2 linked regions of the Homo sapiens genome follow. The protein of the gene in region 1 purifies or fractionates together with the protein of each later gene. This does not show direct contact. Each region holds a gene or a part of one and is shown in the gene's direction. Other genes may lie near its edges.

Region 1 (11,170 bases):
AGATGCAATGCAACCCACACCATGAATCTGTTAATTCTGTCTTTGTCAAACTACCCAAAAAATCAATTTGTCTTTCTTGTTATTGCAGGAAATAGAGGTTTATGCCTCATTAATCAGAAGGGGAGCAGTTTAGGAGCAGTTATTTACTAAGCCCTTTAAGTTATACTAGACAGACCATTTTAAAATCACAGTATCATTTTAGAAAAATACAGTCCAAATAGCAAGTTTAGGGTACCAATCATTTAAAATGTAATAGAGATGAGTACACATAGACACACTCACAACCTTAACACTGAGCTTGAGGAAAGTATAAAGCTTGCTCATTTTAAAACAAGATTCTGCCAGGCGCGGTGGCTCATGCCTGTAATCCTAGCACTTTGGGAGGCTGAGGCGGGTGGACAGCCTGAGATCAGGAGTTTGAGACCTTTAGCCTCAAAGCTGAAACCTTTGGTTTCAGCCTGACCAATATGGTGAAATCCTGTCTCTACTAAAATTACAAAATTACAAAAATTAGCCAGGCGTGGTGGCATGTGCCTGTAATCCCAGCTACTCGGGAGGCTGAGACAGGAGAATCCCTTGAACCCGGGAGGCAGAGGTTGCAGTGAACCGAGATTGTGCCATTGCACTCCAGCCTGGGTGACAAAGCGAGACTCCGTCTCAAAAAACAAACAAACAAACAAAAACAAGATTCTACTTCTTTTGAGATTAAAGTTATGATTTTTTATTTCTAGCATTAACTGAACAAAAATTACGTTACTCAAACATAACCTTAGGAAAAGCAACCCTGTAGCGTATAACTATTACTGGAAGTAGTGAGGAAACTTTTTACTCCAACCCTTGCCAGTTTGGAAGGGATGAAATATGTTCCTGGCATTGCTGGTGGCATCTCAAGGCACATTTTAGTCCCTAAATGAAAAGGCAAAGGTTTCCAGGTGAACCTACAAAAAAGCTACTCAACCTGACTGCACGAAACAAATATCATCCCACCATACTTCTTAGATAAAAAGTGCCCTACATTGAAAGATCCACATAACCTCTTCCGCTAAACAAAGGCTTTCTTTTCTCCTTCTTCTACACATTCTCCCTATGGAACCTGGTCATTCCTACTGCTTTAATGAACCTATGGTCACTCTGCCATCTTCCATGCTGACCCACCCACATACATTTTTGTTCTTCAGACATGCCGTGCTCTCTCTCACCTACATAAAATACTCTTCTCCCCTCCTTCCAACTCCTACCCATCGTTCAGATGAGAAACTACTTCCTTGTGGAAGCTTCTGCTAGCCAACCTCAGCCCTAAGTTCAAGTTCAGTGTCCCCACAGAATGCTACCACACCATCTCATGTTTCCTCTCAAAGACCTTCTCAAATCATACCTTAGGATAACTACCTGTTGACTTGTCTGTCTCCCATTGGACATGAATGAAATGAGAAACCAATAACCAATTAGAGACACATTTAAAAGATATAGGACTTCATGTGTAATCTGTGTGGCAAGTCATCAGTCTCTGCTTCCTTGTCACTAGTTAGAATATAAGACTTCAAATAAACCTCTGCTTTCTATCCTCATTTTAATCTAGAGTAAGCCTGAGGTGGGTAGAGGAGGGTGAAATACAGTGTTTTAACCCTTAACATTTAAGGACTGTTTAAAAAGGTAACAAACAGGAGGTCTGATTAGTTTAACAGGAAGATCTAGTTAGATAAAATACCTCCTCAGCCATTAGAAAATTCAACAACAACAACAAACAATGAATTATGGCATTTTACAAGACCAAATAAGAATCAGCATTGAAGCTTCTTCTACCCAAGACAATAAAAAAGAGAACTGGGGCTGTCATCCATACAGTAGGGACCTTCAATAAAGCAAGAGATGAAGATCTTGAGAAAGGAAGTGATAACCAAGCTGTTGCTCACAACCAAGAAGGTTTCTGAGAGGAAAGAGAACTTTAAAGAGAATTATCAAGAAAAATGTTTGAAAACTAAGGGAAACTAGCAGCTTTTAGGGAGTCAATACATGTCTTCATGAGTAGGGCTAAAAAGCTTGCTGTGGGCTGGGCAACACAGTGTCATACAACATATATTTAATGAATAACAGGAGAAGCAATTTGACCTTGGTTGTTCTACCTGGCCCACAAATGGCTGGTGGGCTCTGCCTAAGCTGAACATGTAACAAGAGTTGCTGGGAGTGCTTTAAGCAAAGCTCAACAGTAGATCAATCTTAGAATACAATGATTATATAGTCCTGTATTCCCAAATTCTTTTCAAAGAATGCCCTCTTCTTAAATTACAAAGAGCAGAACAGACACTGCAGACATACACAGACAAACGCAACAAGCATCAAGACGAGCTCTCAAGGAGGACAGTCTTACCTCACTGCTCTCTCCAGCCTCAGGAAGCCCCTTTCAGCAATGTGCAATACAAGGAGGAATCAACATCTCAACTGCAGACGGAATGCTGACATGCTGCTATAAACCGTACAGAGTAAGAAATGATCTTGTTCTCTTTGGGCCAAATTTTTATGAATTTTCTTTGCATTAACAACATCACATATTCAATGTGTTTTTTTTTTTCCTTGCCATATCACTTGTCACTGCCCCTCCAGCCCAGAACCTATTAAGAGGGTTCTCAGATGATGGTTTCCAAGCTTCATCAACCTTAAGTGCTAGCATATAGCCAACAAACATGCAAACTAACCCCTTAAATTTAGACAACTGGGTCAGAGAGTCCACTAAAATTGAACGATTCTTCAAGTAAGTATGAACGGGTATCTTACCTCTTAATTCTATCCTGTGCAAACAGCTTTCTTTGTATAGCCCCTTGGGCCATCTATGTAGGTAAGAGGAAATAACATCTACATCAAAAGCTACTCAGAAATGTAGAGAGGAGAAAGGAAGGACAACCCCAAACTTGGCTATGTATTTCAGAATAAAAGATGAAGCATGCTACACAGAGGGGAAAGGGAAAACATGAACACAATGAAGCCACTAGCAGAAGAAGAGTTTTAAAAGGGGCGGCGGGGAGGTTGCCATAAACATTTCAGCCTGTGCTTTAATCAATACTTCAAGATGGTCTGGGCATGGTGGCTTATGCCTGTAATCCCAACGATTAGGGAGGCTGAGGTGGGAGGACAGCTTGAGCCCAGGAGTTCAAGACCAGCCTAGCGCAACATGATGAAACCCCGTCTCCACAAAAAATTAGCCAGGCATGGTGGTACGCACCTGTAGTCCCAGCTATCTGGGAGGCTAAGGAGGGAGATCAATGGAGCCTGGGAGGTTACGCCACTGCACTCCAACCTGGGCAACACAGTGAGACCTTGTCTCAAAAACAAACGAACAAACACAAAAACTTCAAGATAGAGTCTGTTATTTTTGTTTTGATGTCTATAATAGGAGAAATAAAACATCTTAATAGTATAAACGTTCATCTGTCCAAACTTCTATGGAAGACCTTCCATAACCTAATGCCCAACTTAGACGCATTGCTCCAAGATTTCTTGCTGAACTATCTAGCCCTGGGCACAAAATACAAGGGAAGCAGGTTGTCACATGATTCTGACCCTGAAACTTCCCCAACAGCAACAACTGCCGGAGTGCACATGTATCCAAAACTAGAAGGATATGTCCCAAAATGTGTAAGGTGCATCCAAAGAAACACTGCTTACCATTGTTAGTGTAATCAGAATCCCCTTCTACTGCTTTCTCAGTTGTGTTTACTAACAAGATAACAAAAGGACTTTAAAAATCAAAATCAGCTGGCATGGTGGTTGACACCTGTAATCCCAGAAACTTTGGGAGGCCAAGGTGAGAGGATCTCTTGAAGCCAAGAGTTCGAGACCAGCCTAGGCAACATAGTGAGACCCTGTCTCCACGAAAAAAATTTTTTTAATTAGCTGGGTATGGTGGCATGTGCTTGTAGTCCTAGCTACTCTGGAGGATCACTTGAACCAGGAGTTCAAGGTTACAGTGAGCTATGATCGTGCCTCTGCACTCCAGCCTGGGTGAAAGAGTGAAGACACTGTCTTTTTAAAAAAAAACAAAAAAAACACAACAACAAAATAAAATCAACAGAAGGAAGGGATGGAGACAAGGATCCAGGCAGAAATGGAGATTCTGGTAGTCTAATGTAGACACTCTACTATTGAAAGATTCCCTTCTCTTTCAAAAAAAGACAAGCTAGTAAAACCCACTTACTCTAATACAAGTCTGGCTACGACATAAGCCTAAGTATGTGGTTGCCAGTTAACACCTTAAAAGGTTCTTGGCAGAGGACATAAGACACACAACATCTAGGACCTCCACCCTAAAAATGGCTTTTTTTTTTTTTTTTTTTTTTTTTAAAGACGGAGTCTCACTCTGTCACCCAGGCTGCCACCTGGTTCAAGCGATTCTCCTGCCTCCGCTTCCTGAGTAGCTAGGATTACAGGCTCCTGTCACCGTGCCCAGCTGATTTTTGTATGTTCGGTAGAGACGGGATTTCACCACCTTGGCCAGGCTGGTCTTGAACTCCTGACCTCGTGCTCCACCCACTTCAGCCTCCTAAAGTGCTGGGATTACAGGCTACCACTGTGCCTGGCCAGCTATCATTTTTTTAAAAGCAGGGATTGAGACTGCCAGCAACAAGGTTTATTTTAACATGCTCCTCCAAAACACCTCTGGGCAACACTTTGGTGCCAGGGCATACACAATTTTTGGAGCTGGGTATGATGAAAGAAACATTTGCCTTTTTAGCATAAAGCAAATATAAAGCTCCCTCTCTACCCTCCCTCCCACAGAAGAACAGGAAATTTCATGAATATATCTGTACATTTGCTTCTCCAAGTAGGGGAATAACTCTCCCTAATCAGCAATACATATGAAAAGCAAACTCTCATGTGGAGGAATGCAGACAACTACAGCCATCTAAGCCCTGCCACTTGACTCAGTTAATTTGCTTAAAACCATTTACAGAGAGGAGACAGGTTAGATTTTACTTCTCCTTTGCCTTATCATGAACATCTAAAGCAATGAAAATTGAAACAGATCATATGGACAGTACCTTCCAGAAGTAGTATTGCCACTTTAAGTCAAAGTCATATGTTTGCGGAAAAAAGCTGCTCTACAGCAAAACCAAGAGAAAGTTTAGAAAAATAGATATGTAGCCCTTTTAGCTAAAGAAAGATAAAGACCAAAAAATGATACACAATTCCATCAATGGGAACTCTGCACTCTACCAATTTTAAGGCAAACTCCATGTCTTCTTTGGTTCCACAGCCTGAACCTCTTGAACCCAAAGAGTGGGCAGGTGAGAAAGATGGCTGGTGACCTGGAAGGGGCTGTGCTCTCTGGGCACCATGATACTGCAAGCATTAGTGCCCACTTCCTCAGAGGCCTTCAAAAAATAATTACTCTTGATTGCACTGATGCTTCTCTGGGCAATTTTCCTTGCCCACAAATCTGTTATAATAGTACTGAGATAATATAATTTAAGTAGTCTCCATTTATTAGTATTTAAGAGGTAGGCCAAGCAGACTAAAAACCAAGAGTTTAAGGGCACGGAGATGCTTTTCCTTCTGCATGTTAACACACAACTCATTCCTAATCATGGTGGCTCTAATCCAACTGACTAAAATGCTTTTCTCCCCAAGGAACTAACGTAGTTACTTGAGAGAAGAGTTTAATCCAGCTTCTCCTGCGTGGCAAAGGGTTTTTTTCATCAGAGGGTAGCTGACTTCAATAAGGGCATTTACAACATCCCAAGGGCTTATTTTCATTTAAGAAATTTGGCCGGGCGCGGTGGCTCACGCCTGTAATCCCAGCACTTTGGGAGGCCGAGGCGGGTGGATCATGAGGTCAGGTGATCGAGACCATCCTGGCTAACAAGGTGAAACCCCGTCTCTACTAAAAATACAAAAAATTAGCCGGGCGTGGTGGCGGGCGCCTGTAGTCCCAGCTACTCAGGAGGCTGAGGCAGGAGAATGGCGTGAACCCGGGAAGCGGAGCTTGCAGTGAGCCGAGATTGCGCCACTGCAGTCCGCAGTCCGGCCTGGGCGACAGAGCGAGACTCCGTCTCAAAAAAAAAAAAAAAAAGAAATTTAAGAGACCACTCCTATGAGACTACTGTCCTTAGAACTTTTGGGGGCAAGTTCCTGTAGAACAGCAGCTCTGAAACCTAGGGTGAGAGACCCTGTAGGAATCGGACTCAACCTTATCCACAGAAAAATGAACAAGCAAAAAAATTTCACAAGACAGTTTATGGAACCAGGTTAAGAAGTTCTAGCCTATTGAGAGAGACTATAGGAAGGATTAAGGTCAGAGGGGGAGTAGCATTCCCCGGGTCTAAACCAGGACTTGTTTCCTTCCCTTCTTTAACCAGCAAGAAGGAACAAAGAGGACGTACTAGTGCAGGCTCATTACTAAGGACTCAAGAGTCTGTTCACTGGCAACTTTGGCTTGGGAATTTCCATTCAGCCTACAAAATGTGTCTAAGAACCACAATGCCAATCTCATCTTCTTTGCTTCCTCTGTCCCTTCACAGGTGTCAGACCTGCCCTGTGGTACGAAGACTCTCAGAGCATTCCTGCTGCCTTCTGTCTCCCTTTGTACTTCGTAGGCATTTTTGCCTCTTGTACTTCTAATTCTACCTTGGGATCACTTCTAGGAGGACTCAAACCACACACCTGCACTGCTGCAGTTTTCATAGCACCTTTACACAGAGCCCTAAGGAAGGGACCTTGGAGTCTCACAGCTCTCACTCCAGCACAACACTACAACAGAAAAATTTTACCCAAGACAATTACTTCTTAGATCTGCCCAGTGGGATGAATCCCTCAGAACCAAAAAGGCCAACGATGTTCTTGTTTCACAGACACCATCAGTAGTTTTAAAGATGTCTGTCCTTAGGTCTGAGACAAGACCCACAAAGGGTAAGTGCCAATGATATGGGAGAAATAGGTATGTTGGGTCAAATCAATAAGGCAAGATGTAGAAAAGGGCTTACCTTTGTCAGGCCTGAAAATATAACATCTAGAAACATCTTTTGCATTTATATAACACTAAACATGGAGCTATACATCCACAACTGAGGTCTGAAAAGTGAAGACACCATTCAACAGGGAGAAACTGGAGTTAGGGCAAGCAAAATCAAGTCAAAACAAAAATCCCAGTCCAAAGCATGAGTGACCTTTTGTATTCACAAGACAGGTTCTAACAACAGCAGTAGGCTCAGTTAAGTCAGCCACTTGGTGGCTGGGAACTAGGGTGCAAATGCTCTATTATTTCAGTGTCACAACCACCAACCTCAGTACCAGCGGAGGCTTTTAGTTATGGAGTAGGTGAGATTCTGAGGTAAAATACAAGGGGCCATGTCAGAATCCAGCTACACGGTATCACTTGTCCTAAATCATCTCTGCTTTGCTGTTAGGGCATGTGCATTAAAATGACTGTATCAACCTGCCTTGTCCTCCCAGGAGGACATTTAAAGATCAACTCAGCATTATTTTTTCAATCAGTATGGCGACAAAACATTGTTATAAAATAGGAGAAAGAGAAATCTTTTTAGAGTTCCCCTGAAATTCTCAAAGAAAAAAATAACCACATGCTTTGTTTTGCAAGCTTCCCCTCCCCCTTTATTCTTCGTTTATAATGTTAAGCTCTTGATGACAAACAAGCCAAGCCCACTTAGCTAGTTTATCAACACATCTAAAGCAAATCATAGTCATACTTTGATTTTAACCAAGCATGACAACAAGGCAACTGAATAGCTTTCCAAACTACCAGTGCAGCGACACTACCTTGCATAGGCTGGTGTTAAATCAGCACTTCATAAATTGTGCAGGCTTCTGCCCATTTAGATGATCTCTCTATGCAGAATCGGCAGTCTAACACTGGCTCTCACAAGCATTAAAAATCATCACTCTGCTAACCCAACTCACTGTTCAGATGGGTCTTCTTGAATGCAGCCTTTATTACAACCTCACTGCTGCTTCCTACACTGAAGGAATATCATGTTTTTAAGTCAGGAGTTCTTCTTTCTCGCTTTATTGTAATCAGGGGGTCCTGCAACGACCCCGATGCTGTTACAAAGCATGGTGCTTTATAACAGTAAAGCTTCTGGAAAACCCAAACAAAAGACACGTCATCCGGTGACGTCAGCCTATATACAGTTCTGTGTGGTCGCAGCACATAAGCAAATCCATTCTTGTGCCGTTTCTCGGAAAAGCTTTTCAGTAAATGCACTCATGCTGCTCCAGGAGCTCTTCTCTGCAACAAGCCACCCATCTGCCATCAACAAGTTAAGACCAAGAGAACTAACGGCTGCGGAAAGGAGACTGAAGCTTTGATTAACCAGCTGAGCAGTTAGAGGTGGAGAAATTTAATAACTTATATTCAAAACTGATTTAGGGATCAGAGCAATCACAGAAAATGAAACCAATGCTTTCCAGAGGGATATCCTAAGGAAAAAACAACTCGTCCTGGTGGATTCAATTTTACTTGGAAAGCCTGGGACACAGAAAACAGGAAACTGGTCAAAGGCTCCTACATGTTAGAGCCTTTTACAGACTCACTGCGTTGAGTCTAACAACCGCGACTGAATGCAGCCTCCAATGTGCTCAGAAGAATGGGTAAGTCTGTGCATTTATATGTCTTGTACATTCAACAAGGAATCACGCTTTTAAAATAAGCTACCGAATTCACATTTTATGAGGGAAATCACCATCATATTTTGGATTTTGAGGTTTAGGTAAAAGCATATATCGATGATGACAGAGACATGTTTTATCTTCTTTTTAAATGGCTTAAGTTTTGGTCCAGTCATACCAATAAGGTTAATTTTTCTGCAGTAAATGAAAAATAAGTTATATGCAGTGAAATCTTTTGCTATAATGTTGGTGGTGGTTGTTTTTTTTAAATAGCCCATATGTTCTGCTGAAAAATATCCTATCTTCTTGTTTTCCTTAAATTATATTCTGCAGGCTTACATTTCAAGTGGCCATTAGGGGCCCCTATGCTGGCAGCAATATATGCAATGAGTATGGTTTTAAAAATGCTGCCTGCCCTGGGTATGGCGTGTCCACCCAAATGCCGCTGCGAGAAGCTGCTCTTCTACTGCGACTCTCAGGGCTTCCACTCAGTGCCAAACGCCACAGACAAGGGCTCTCTGGGCCTGTCCCTGAGGCACAATCACATCACAGAGCTCGAAAGAGATCAATTTGCCAGCTTCAGTCAACTTACTTGGCTCCACTTAGATCACAATCAAATTTCAACAGTAAAAGAAGATGCTTTTCAAGGACTATATAAACTTAAGGAATTAATCTTAAGTTCCAACAAAATATTTTACTTGCCAAACACAACTTTTACCCAACTGATTAACCTGCAAAATTTGGACCTGTCTTTTAATCAGCTGTCATCTCTGCACCCAGAGCTCTTCTATGGCCTTCGGAAGCTGCAGACCTTGCATTTACGTTCCAACTCCCTGCGGACTATCCCAGTACGCCTGTTCTGGGACTGTCGTAGTCTGGAGTTTCTGGATTTGAGCACAAATCGTTTGCGAAGTTTGGCTCGCAATGGATTTGCAGGATTAATTAAACTGAGAGAGCTTCACCTAGAGCACAACCAGCTGACGAAGATTAATTTTGCTCATTTCCTACGGCTAAGCAGTCTGCACACGCTCTTCTTACAATGGAACAAAATCAGCAACTTGACATGTGGGATGGAGTGGACCTGGGGCACTTTAGAAAAGCTAGACCTGACTGGAAATGAAATCAAAGCCATCGACTTGACAGTGTTTGAAACGATGCCCAATCTTAAAATACTCCTCATGGATAACAACAAGTTAAACAGCCTTGATTCCAAGATCTTAAACTCCCTGAGATCCCTCACAACCGTTGGTCTCTCTGGCAATCTGTGGGAATGCAGCGCCCGAATATGTGCTCTGGCCTCCTGGCTGGGCAGTTTCCAAGGTCGGTGGGAACACTCCATCCTATGCCACAGTCCTGACCACACCCAAGGAGAGGATATTCTAGATGCAGTCCATGGATTTCAGCTCTGCTGGAATTTGTCAACCACTGTCACTGTCATGGCTACAACTTATAGAGATCCAACCACTGAATATACAAAAAGAATAAGCTCATCAAGTTACCATGTGGGAGACAAAGAAATCCCAACTACTGCAGGCATAGCAGTTACTACCGAGGAACACTTTCCTGAACCAGACAATGCCATCTTCACTCAGCGGGTAATTACGGGAACAATGGCTTTATTGTTTTCTTTCTTTTTTATTATTTTTATAGTGTTCATCTCCAGGAAGTGCTGCCCTCCCACTTTAAGAAGAATTAGGCAGTGCTCAATGGTTCAGAACCACAGGCAGCTCCGATCCCAAACACGACTCCATATGTCAAACATGTCAGACCAAGGACCGTATAATGAATATGAACCCACCCATGAAGGACCCTTCATCATCATTAATGGTTATGGACAGTGCAAGTGTCAGCAGCTGCCATACAAAGAATGTGAAGTATAATATCTACCCATCATCAAAAATCACATCAGATAAGTAACCTATTTTACATAGTAGAGGCTAAATACATATCTAATTTTTACCAATGGTGACATTAAGCCTAATTTTCCAAACTAAGTGGAGACTTAGTTTTTGAAGTGTTGAAGTATTTTTAATTTTTTAAATGAAACCATATTTTAAGTGTTAAATGAATCAATGCTCACATTAATTTGCACTCCTGTTGGAAAGTCTAAAATGCTTACTTCAAAATAAGAAATGTATGTAATTATATACAATCGTGTGTAAACCTTTACACTAAGGTCTCCATATACTATTTTTTTCTACTGAAAACAATTTAGAAAGAAGCTATTGGGCAGAAACAGATATAGATCAATACCTGTTTGATCACTGCTCTCCATCCCATGTACCACAACTATCTTGCTGCTTAAAAGGAGACTTAGTAAAGTTCTCTTGTATGATAATTTGGTATTTACTCAAATCTTCAATTTCTTGCCAGGGTGGGAAGTAGAATTTCATGTATGCTGAAGACTGGTAAATATTAAACATTCTCCTTCCAGAGTTTCTGCCTGGGTTAGTAGATATTATCAAAGTCCATATCATGAATTCAGAACCCTTTAATGTAATTCTAATAAGCTGAGTGACTCTTTAATATATTTACACAATGAATCCAAGTGACT
Region 2 (10,203 bases), on another chromosome or scaffold:
CTGTATATTCAGGATGTCAATCCTTGGTGAGATATATGTATTGCAAATAATTTTCTCCCAGTTTATGCTCTTCCTTTTTCTTTGTTTAGTGTTGTCTTTAGAAGAGCTGAAGTTTTAAATTTTGATGAAGTTTACTTTACTAGATTTTCCTTTCATGGCCCTTCTTTTTGTGTCCTATTAAGAAACTATTTTATTCCTCAAGGTTTTGAAGAGTTTTCACCTGTTTCTTCTAAAAGTTTTATAATTTTTGCTTTTTTTTCTGTTTTTTTTTATTATTATACTTTAAGTTCTGGGATACATGTGCACAATATACAGGTTTGTTACATATGTATACATGTGCCATGTTGGTGTGCTGCACCCATTAACTAGTCATTTACATTAGGTATATCTCTTAGTGCTATCCCTCCCCCCTCCCCCCACCCCACGACAGGCCCCGGTGTGTGGTGTTCCCCACCCTGTGTCCAATTGTTCTCATTGTTCAATTCCCACCTATGAGTGAGAACATGCGGTGTTTAGTTTTCTGTCCTTGCGATCGTTTGCTCAGAATGATGGTTTCCAGCTTCATCTATGTCCCTACAAAGGACATGAACTCATCCTTTTTACTTTTAGAGTCTGTGAACCATTTCAAATTAAGTTTTATGAGTCCTACAAGGTAAGGGTCAGGTTTTTTTTTTTTCCTCCATATGAGTAGGAAGTTGTTACAACACTGTTTGTTGAAAAGACAGTTCTTTCCCTCATTGAATGATCTTGCCACCTTTGTTGAAAATCAGTTGGCTTGACCTATGTGGGTCTATTTCTAGACTATATTCTGTTCTATTGATTTATATGTCTATTTCTAGCCAATACTAAACTGTCTTAATTACCATAACTTTATAGTAAGTCTTAAAATCAAGTAGTACAGTTTCTCCAACTTTATTTTCTCAATATTTCTTAGGATAGTCTACATCTTTTATATTTCTAAATAAGTTTTATGATAAAGTTGTCACTTCCTATGGAAAAAACGCCTTCTGGAATTGTTTTTGAGATTGCATCTATAGATTAATTTGGGAAGAAATCAGATCTTAAAAAGATTTAGTCTGTTGATCTCTGAACATGGTATGTTTCTCCAGTTATTTAGGCCTTTAAATTTTTGGAGTACTATTTTGTGGTCTTCATTGTTTTATATGTATCTTGTTAAATTTAAATTTATCCTGAAGTAGTTCATATTTTTGGATGCCTTTAGAAATAGTAGTTTTTCAAATTTCAATTTGGAATTTTACATTGCTTCTATGTACATTGCTTGTAAGAATAATCTTACACATTGTTCTTGTATCCTGTGACCTTGCTAAATTGCCTGTTGGTTCTGGTAGCTTTTGTGTAGATTCTTTAGCATTGTCTATATACATGGTTTTGTCTATGATAAAGATAGTTTTACTTTTTCCTTTTCAACCCGGATGCTGTTTTTTTCCTTGCCTTATTATATTGGCTAGAATGTCCTGTACAATGTTGAAGAGAAATGGTGAGAGTAGACATCTTTGTTTTGTTTGTGACCTTAGTGGGAAAACATTCAGCCTTTTAACTTAAATAAGATATTAGCTATTAAGCATCTTATAGATATCCTTTATGAGGTTAAGGAAGTTCTCTTTTATTTCTAGTTTGCTGAAAGTGTTTATCATGAATGGGTGTGGGATTTTGTCAAATGCTTTCTTCTGTATCATTTAAAATAATCATAGGGGTTTTCTCTTATATTCTGTTAATATAGTGGATTACATTGATTGATTATTAAAATGTTACATAAATCTTTCATTCCTGTGATAAACCCCATTTAGTCATGATGCGGTATCCTTTTTGCATATTACTGAATCCATTTTTTAAAATATTTTCAAGGATTTTTTTCCAGTGTGCTAATGGATATTGGTTTGTAGTTTTCTCTGTAATTTTTTTCTCCTTTTTGTATTAACATAAAATTGGGCTCATTAAATAAATGGAAAATAATTTCTCTAATCTCTGAGTTTATGTAGGTTTGATATTATTTATTGGTAAATGTTTGATAGATTCACTAATGAAGTCATTTGGGCCTAGAATTTTCTTTAAAGGAAGGTTTTTGATAACAATTTCTTACATAGATATAGGGCTATGCAGATTTTCTATTTTACTTGTGTCTGTTTTACTAAGTTGTATTTATTACGGAATTTGCCATTTCACTTAAGTTTTTTATTGTTGGCATGAAATTGTTGATAATAGTTTTTTGTTATCCCTTTAATGTCTGTAGAATTTGTGGTAATGTCTCCACTTTCATTCCTGATATTGGTGATCTGTGTTTTCTTTTTCTGTCTTTTAAAATCACTCTACCTAGAGGTTTGTCAGTTTCATGGATTTGTTTCAAAGACCCAGCTTTTGGTTTCATTGGTTTTTCTGTTTTAGATTTCATTAATTTCAGGTCTTTTTTATATCCTTCCTTCTGTTTACTTTGGGGTTTACTTGGTTCTTCCTTTACTATAAAGAAAATATTGATAAATTTGACTCCATAAATTGTTTTTTAAAGTTGCATGGCAAAAGCCACTGTGGACAAAGTCAAAATATAGCTATCAAATAGCTGTGATAAAATACTTACAACATATATCAGAGGGCTGGTATGCCTGATATATAACAACCTCTTAAAAATTAAGGGATAAAGGACCAAAACCTGATGGAAAAGTTAAAGGAAAGTTATCAACAGACAATTCACACAGAAAAGATCAGGAAATGTTCCTCAAACATATTAAAAAATGTGGAACTCATACTTGAGAAACATTAATTAAAATAACACTGAGATACCATTTCTCATTCATCAAAACTGGCACAAAATTTTAAATTTGTATTTTATTTTAGTTTTGAGACAGGGTCTCGCTCTGTCACTCAGGCTGGAGTGCAGTGGCATGATCACGGCTCACTGCAGCCTTGACTTCCCAGGCTCAAGTGATCTTCCCACCTCAGCCTCCTGAGTAGTTGGGACTACAGGTGTGTGCCACCATGCCTGGCTAATTTTTGTATTTTTTGTACAATTTTGGTTTCACTATGTTGCCCAGGCTGGTCTCAAACTTGGACTCAAGCAACCTTCCCGCAAACGAAAAATTTACAAGTCTGGCTACACATTCTGTTGATGAGGCTGTGGAGAATCAGGCACTCCTGCAAATGTTCTTTTTCAGTGTTTTCTGGATTTCTTCTGTGTTTGTGTTTTTTCAATATATTTTTAGCTATTCTTGTATATTGATATGAACTTTAATAGTTTGTCTAGCTCTGTAAAAAACCATGTTGATATTTTTATTGCAATTGTGTTTATTGTTTATTGCAATTTATAAGCTAATTTAGGGAGGCAGTTATAGGAAGAAAAGCATGGAATGAGACAGGAGTGAGGACAGAGCCATAAAGTTCTCTAATATTTAGAGAAGGGAAATCTAGAATGGGAAATGGAAAAGGGGTGGTTGATGAGAGTTTTAAGGAGGAGGAGATAGTTTTAAAGAGCGTAGATGTGCTGAATACTGATGAGAAGTGTCTTCAGGTAATGTATTGTTTAATACATGAATGAGGGACACTGTTCTTAGGCCCTTTTGGGGATCCAAATAATCATATATACATTGAATAAGGTGTAATGTATACATTTTATTCATTGATGTATTGAATAAGATGTATTATTGAACACATGAATGAGGGACACTGTTCTTAGGTGCTTTTGGGGATATGAATGATTATATAAACATTGAATAAGACCCAAATCCTATTCTTAAGACATTATTGTCTAAAAAGGAGCAGGAGATATGCTAACTTGACTTTTAAACTTTATGAGGAGAGGTACTAAGTTTGCAGTATTCATCACTGCATCCTTAGCATTGAGTCTAGTGTATATAGTTGATTTTTAATATATATTTGTTGACTGACTAATAAATGATCAAAATGCTCTTTCACAGGTTTATTTAATTATTCCACACTTAAAGATATACATTGAATAAGGTATAATGTATACATTTTATTCATTGATGCATTGAATATTATTCCACACTTAAAGATATATACCAGAAATGAACAGTTCATTCACCTAGGTTTTTTTTTACATTTGTAAAAATGTAAACCCTATGATTTTAATTTATTTGAATCATTCATGTTAATAATTAGCGAAGTCTGAGGGAATAACATAATCTATGGAGAAAGCATAGAGTGATCAGAAAACCTACTTGAATATGCCATGTGCCGTTAGGGATTCATTTTAGGGCCAGGTGACTTTCATTGGAAGATACTGATAAGGGCCTATTGGAATAGACACGAGTTACACTGAAAAGGATTATTTGAATTTGGGCAGGTGGAGACAGGAAGAAGTATGTTCTGGATGAAGAGAGAGATTAATTGTGCAAATTTTTCTTTTATAGATATATTTCAGTATGCTTTGAATTATTGCTATGAAGTAGATGTTATATTTATTCATTCAGTGTATTCTCAGTGCTAGGCACTATAGAGAATATCAAAGTAGGTATAAGTGCCATATTGTGTGTCACATTTTACTGGACATTTTGAAATGGTGTAACTTGAGATATAAAGAATGTGGCAGAGCTTTAAACAAATTTCTTTACCTGAATTAATTTATATTTTGGGATATGTTAAAAATGCCAAAATATTTTTAGGGCTTCTATTTTCTTTTGTTTCATCTCCTTTTTAAGTAAGAGACTATGAAGCCAAATACTATTTAATTTAGGTAATATACTTTTTCTTTTAATAGTTTGCTAAATAAGGAGACAGTTTTATATTTTATTTGTAAAAGAATAAGGATTTATTCTATTTGTCACAAGTACATTTGTCACCTTGTTAAATCAAGGTCTGATAAGAGGCTGAATTCACAAAATTTTGTCCTTGAACTTCATGTGTCTATCTCAGCTGTAATTTCTGATGCCAGCAATACTTCTCAACTGAGTGATGAGTCTTTTGGGAGTGGAGATTCTATTAAAACACTTGAGTTTGAAAAATACTTATTATAGTTCATGTTCTCAGAAAATATTTTAAACCCTGACACTCTTCTCTTTTGGATTTTGTAAAAAAGACGTTGCTGTTTTCCTGACAGTAGACCATTGTTTTTGATTGGAATTCTATTATCTTTTATTTGCAGTTCCTTAAGTCAAGCTATGACCAAGGTAATTATGCTAGTGTATCTCATTGTAACTATTTATTCTAAGGAATAATTTAATATAAAAAAGTCCTTAGATCTTATCCAATAATGGCATAAACTTGGAGGTTAATGTTATATTTGGACTCCTCGTTTTACATTCTCTCCAGGTGTGTACACTCATTTATGCATTTACCTTTCGCTTGTATGATAAATGACTTCCAGATCTATATCTATTATTTAAATGTTCCTGGGAAATCTCTATTACTGCCCTTTCTCTTCTTTACTGTTTGGTAATTACTGATTTACTTGCCTGTCTCTGGCTAGTCTGTAAGCTCCTTGAGGGCAGGGATTACATTCAACATCTTCTGGAAGACAGTTAATGCACAAGCAGAATATTTTAATCATATTGTTAGTTTTAGACTTAGTGCTGTATTGTACTTCAGTTTGCCCTTCTACAGTGTAACCCTTTTGGGGTCTTACTTTAAGCCTGAAGTACATCCCTGGGCAGTTTCACCTTGTCTGACCTTGAATTCCAACTTATCTTCCCAGTACCAGGCAGCTGGCTGCTAAAGTATCTGCTCAGCTCTTTGGCCTCTCAGCTATTGCTGTCTGCTAGGCTTTTGGATTCTCATCCTTCTTATGTATGCAGAGTTTAGGGATTGGTAAATTCCCCCAGGGCAAATTGCACGAGGATTTTAGGGCTCACTTCCATGCGACATCCTCCTCTTTGGGCTGTATTGACCTCAGGTCCTTACAGCTTTGGCCTTCTCACATTCCAACCTATGGCTCCTTATCCCCCCTGGACTTCTGCTTTCTATTCCCCTGTGCTGTGAATTTAGGTACATATCTTCACAAGAAAAAGCAAGGGTAAATGTGGAACTCACTTTATTCAGCTTTTTTTCTCTTGAATAGTAGCCCCATCAGGTTCTGCCTATTTCAGTTGTTTCCCAGTGTCTTTTAGCAGTTACTTTATGTACTTCTGTCTTTTGTTGATTTTGGTGAGAGACTGAGTCCTGATATAAGCTATTTAATCATGACTGGCCTGAAGTCCATGGGCATGTATTTAAAAAAATTTTTTTTTTAAAAATTGAGTTCAAATTCACATAAAATTAGCTGTTTTAAAATACACATTTCAGTGACGTTTAGTACTCTCACAATGTTGTGTGTGGATGTGTTTTTAATTTATATAAATGATAGTACACTATGGCTCTTGTTTTGTGTCTCATTTTCACCTAACAGTATGTTCTAAGAATTTTTCACTTTTTCTTTTCTATTCTAAATATTGCATAGCATGCATTTAACTTATCTATTCCTTTTGTGATGAATATATACTTTTCTTCCACCTCCCCACACTGTATTGCAACTAGTAAGAATTTATTCTTGATACCATTTTCCCCAAGCAGGTAGGTTATGTAGGGGTCTTCTTTGAAAATTTGATCCCCAGAATTTCTAGTTTAAGTCATTATCTGTGTTCTGGAGGAACTGACTCTTGGGGAAATTCCTGGATTCTTTGGAGCTGTTCTAGACTTGAAAGTTCTCCTCCCAGATTTATTTTGGCATTAGCCTAATTTCTTGAGTATATCTAAACATCTGTGAACACTGTGCATTTTGCCACATAAAGGAATAGGAGCACTCTCTACCCCTTGAGGTCTTGGTTCCTTTATATAAAAATATATGTGGAAAAAATTGGGGGACATTCTACAATCTGTTGAGGGTAGCATTCTGCAAGTCACTAAAAGTCTGTGACTTTAGATGATGATAGTCAGTGTATTTAGTAATCGAACTCAGAATCTGGATATTGCAAACTTCTTTACCACTTATTAGCTTTGTGATTTTGGGCAAGTTATTTAACCTCTCAGAGCCTTGGTTCCACATCTCAATGATGAGGGTAATAATAGAATAGTTGTTGGGTTAAAGTTAAAGAGAACGACAATGTAAAGCACTTATCTTCGTTCTGACACATGTTAAATGCATAGTGATGTTGATATTTTATCTTACTTCCTTTGAATACTAAATGCATTTTTGTGAAAGTGGTTATTCTACTCATTTGGCACCCCAAAATATGGTACCTTGTATTATTTTTAATGAGTTGTGTTATTTTCCATTAAGTAGAATCTCATGGAGAACAGAGATTTTACCAGAATCTAGCTTAGATTGCTTCCCCTGCAGATTACATTAATAATGCATTTTGATTTTTTTTCCTTTTGTTTCTCTCTCTTGAGAAACAGAAATCATTTGTATTTAAATTCAAAATTAAACTTTTTTCCCCCAGATAACCATGATGACTACACAGACTTCTACTATGACATTTGCTCCTTTTGAGGATACATTGAGTTGGATGCTATTTGGCTGGCAGCAGCCGTTTTCATCATGTGAGAAGAAAAGTGAAGCAAAGTCACCTTCCAATGGCGTTGGGTCATTGGCCTCAAAGCCGGTAGATGTTGCCTCAGATAATGTTAAAAAGAAACATACTAAGAAGAATGAATAAATTTACGTGATGAGCTCTACAAGGCCAAAAATTTTTTTTCTTATCTACCTGTTATATTGTGCTAATTTTTCTATGTATGTGATGTGAAATGAAGACTATATATATGGAATGGAGGTGACAGAAAGAAAGAAATTCTTTGTTTGAGGGAGACTTCCCCTTTCTGGATTGTATTTGTAGAGTGTTACGAGTGTATCATGTGATTATGCTTTACCGGTATAAGAGATTCTGTTGTGATTATTTGAATAGTTTTATATTAATAAAAGAAGACAAAATTTTTTAAATGTTAGAAAAAGCAGATCTGTCATTGCAAAGTAACAAAAATTTTAAGCTTTTAAAAATGTAGATTTTTCATATTTTTAAAATTTGAATCTATTTGAGCTTTAGTTCAGCAGAATTAAATTTTTACTTGACATTATCATTAAAATTGCTAGGTATGGAGAACAATTCCTATTTTATTTTGAACACTGAGAAGAGTAAACTTTTCCTAAAACACTTTATATTATAAATGAAAATAAATTGCTAGTTTATATTTTAGATATAAACATCATATTTTTTATTAATACCTACATCAAATGGAAAATATCTGAAATTTTTTTTCCATAGCAGGTATTTTCTACTAGAAGTAGTTTTACTACTTTTCATTTAGAACAGAGTATGAGTCTTAATCTGAAGTCTTTTTCATGCCCTTGTTTTAAAAAAACTACTTTTTTTGGCCTCAAAAAAATCAAGGGTGTAATTTTTAATAAATTGTTAATCCTATGTTTTGTAATTTTCATTTTAGGAGCTTGACTTATTTTTTTCTCTCTCATAAAAACACATTTGTTTTAATTGTAGGAGAAATTTTCTCAGCATTTTGCATGTTCTTTCTAATCTTTGTTGGTCTGAATATATTGGTAGTAATTACTGTAATTATTCAACAAAAAGCATATCCGTTCAAAAATTTTTCCACTATGTCTTTTTTCTAGTGGCTACTGTTTTAGTTTTCTAGTTGAATATCTCTGACAAGCTTTCGTATGGTTTTGTTATATTTTCATCTACATGTAATGTGTTATTAATTTTATTAAATGAAAACTAATCACCTTCATGTGGAAATGCTCTGAGAATTGTCCTTAGGCATTTGGTAGTAACCAGCTAACCAAGAAGAAACAGAGAAACCAGAACTTCATATGGCAGTCCATTTAGATGAAGAATGATGATATAAAATCTGGTTCCTTCTTAGCAAAATAAAAAACAAACAAGAAAAGATACTAAATGATGTTAATTTTCTTACTTTATGATTTAGAAGTCCAGTTATAATATTAAAACTCTGTGACATAGTTTCTTTTACCAAAACCATGAACCTACTCCCCGTATCAGGTATTTTCGATGGTTTAGAAGTACTCAAGTCACATCACATTCAAGTTAGAAGTTTTTTTTTTGTTGTTGTTATTTTAAATTTTTAACAAATATAAACACCAGCAGATACTATTACTTGCTTAAAAAATTGGGAGGGGGCACTTTTCATAGTCTTGGAATGCTAAGAAGTTTTATTTTTAATATTGTGACAGAAAGCTTTAAGTATTTAAGAGCTCTGTATTATATTTGATACTCTTACAGTTAAAAACTTTTCAAAATTAATACATTGTTAATTATTGACCAGTTTTGAAGTTTGGGTTTAACTGTAGTTGAAATGGAAGGACTCTTGTTTTACACTTGTATTAAAGATAAATTTATTAAAATAAGTTATTTAGCACCAATGGAGTATTACATTATTTTTATGTTTTATATTTTTCTTGAGGTAGAGTTTCAGAACTCATCTAGTATTTTGACTAATATAGTATATATTCAGTGATTACTGTTCAAATGGGACATTGGTAGAAACTTTATTAATCTATGCAAGTATCCTATAACCCTCAATTCAAGGCTCTTTTGTAAAAAATGTACTGGAGAACATGGCTTAGGCCTGAAACCCATCCTGAATCTATTCAGGTCACCTGTAGAGTCTTGACTTGGATTTGCAAAGCAGATTGTTAGACTCCTTACCCAATGTGAAGTGTGAATAAGGCCTATAGGCCTGCCTCACACAGCTAATCAGAGGTGGCACTGAGAAAGTCAAGTCCTAATAGGTCTCCTTAAAAAAAAAAAGGAGACAAAAAGCTGGCAAGAACATGAGCCAGCTTCCCTCAGTGCTGTCACTCTCAAGTAAAACATGGCCAAATGAATATCAAACTGGTTTATCAGATTAGTCACTCTTCCTTACTGAGGGAGTATCAAGTAAGGGCTGGAGAGAGACCAGATATGTGGAGTTGTTGGCTTTCAGTGGAAATGGTAGCCTCCCTGTGGGTAGAGACCAAAAGGTAGAGAGATGACAGAAGGGAGACTCTGATTAGTGTATTTTTTTTTTGTCTATTCCTTAAAGCCCAGACACCTTTCCATTAAAATCTACTTCAAATCACAAGTTGATTACAATTGAGTGGAACATCCCATGTTGTAAATGGAATAATGTGTTCAGAATGCTCTTTCTTTCCCCCAATAAAGCCCTTTATAGTGTTTGCCCCAGGTGTAATTCACATCCTTGGTAATATTCATTCAGTTGTTTATTCAACAAATATTGAGTACCAGT

The links.
Region 2: the proteins of LRRTM2 (region 1) and TMEM38B purify together in Homo sapiens (affinity purification with mass spectrometry; 3 studies listed by BioGRID and IntAct, with this or other methods). This does not show direct contact.

What each region holds. Positions count from the first base shown.
Region 1 is NC_000005.10:138,872,336-138,883,505, reverse strand, and holds the start of LRRTM2 (leucine-rich repeat transmembrane neuronal protein 2 precursor), read left to right. Parts: upstream 1-8,170; 5' UTR 8,171-8,594; coding exon 8,595-8,598; intron 8,599-8,949; coding exon 8,950-10,496; 3' UTR 10,497-11,170. UniProt on the Homo sapiens protein: Involved in the development and maintenance of excitatory synapses in the vertebrate nervous system. Regulates surface expression of AMPA receptors and instructs the development of functional glutamate release sites.
Region 2 is NC_000009.12:105,766,480-105,776,682, forward strand, and holds the end of TMEM38B (trimeric intracellular cation channel type B), read left to right. Parts: intron 1-7,385; coding exon 7,386-7,601; 3' UTR 7,602-10,150; downstream 10,151-10,203. UniProt on the Homo sapiens protein: Intracellular monovalent cation channel required for maintenance of rapid intracellular calcium release. Acts as a potassium counter-ion channel that functions in synchronization with calcium release from intracellular stores.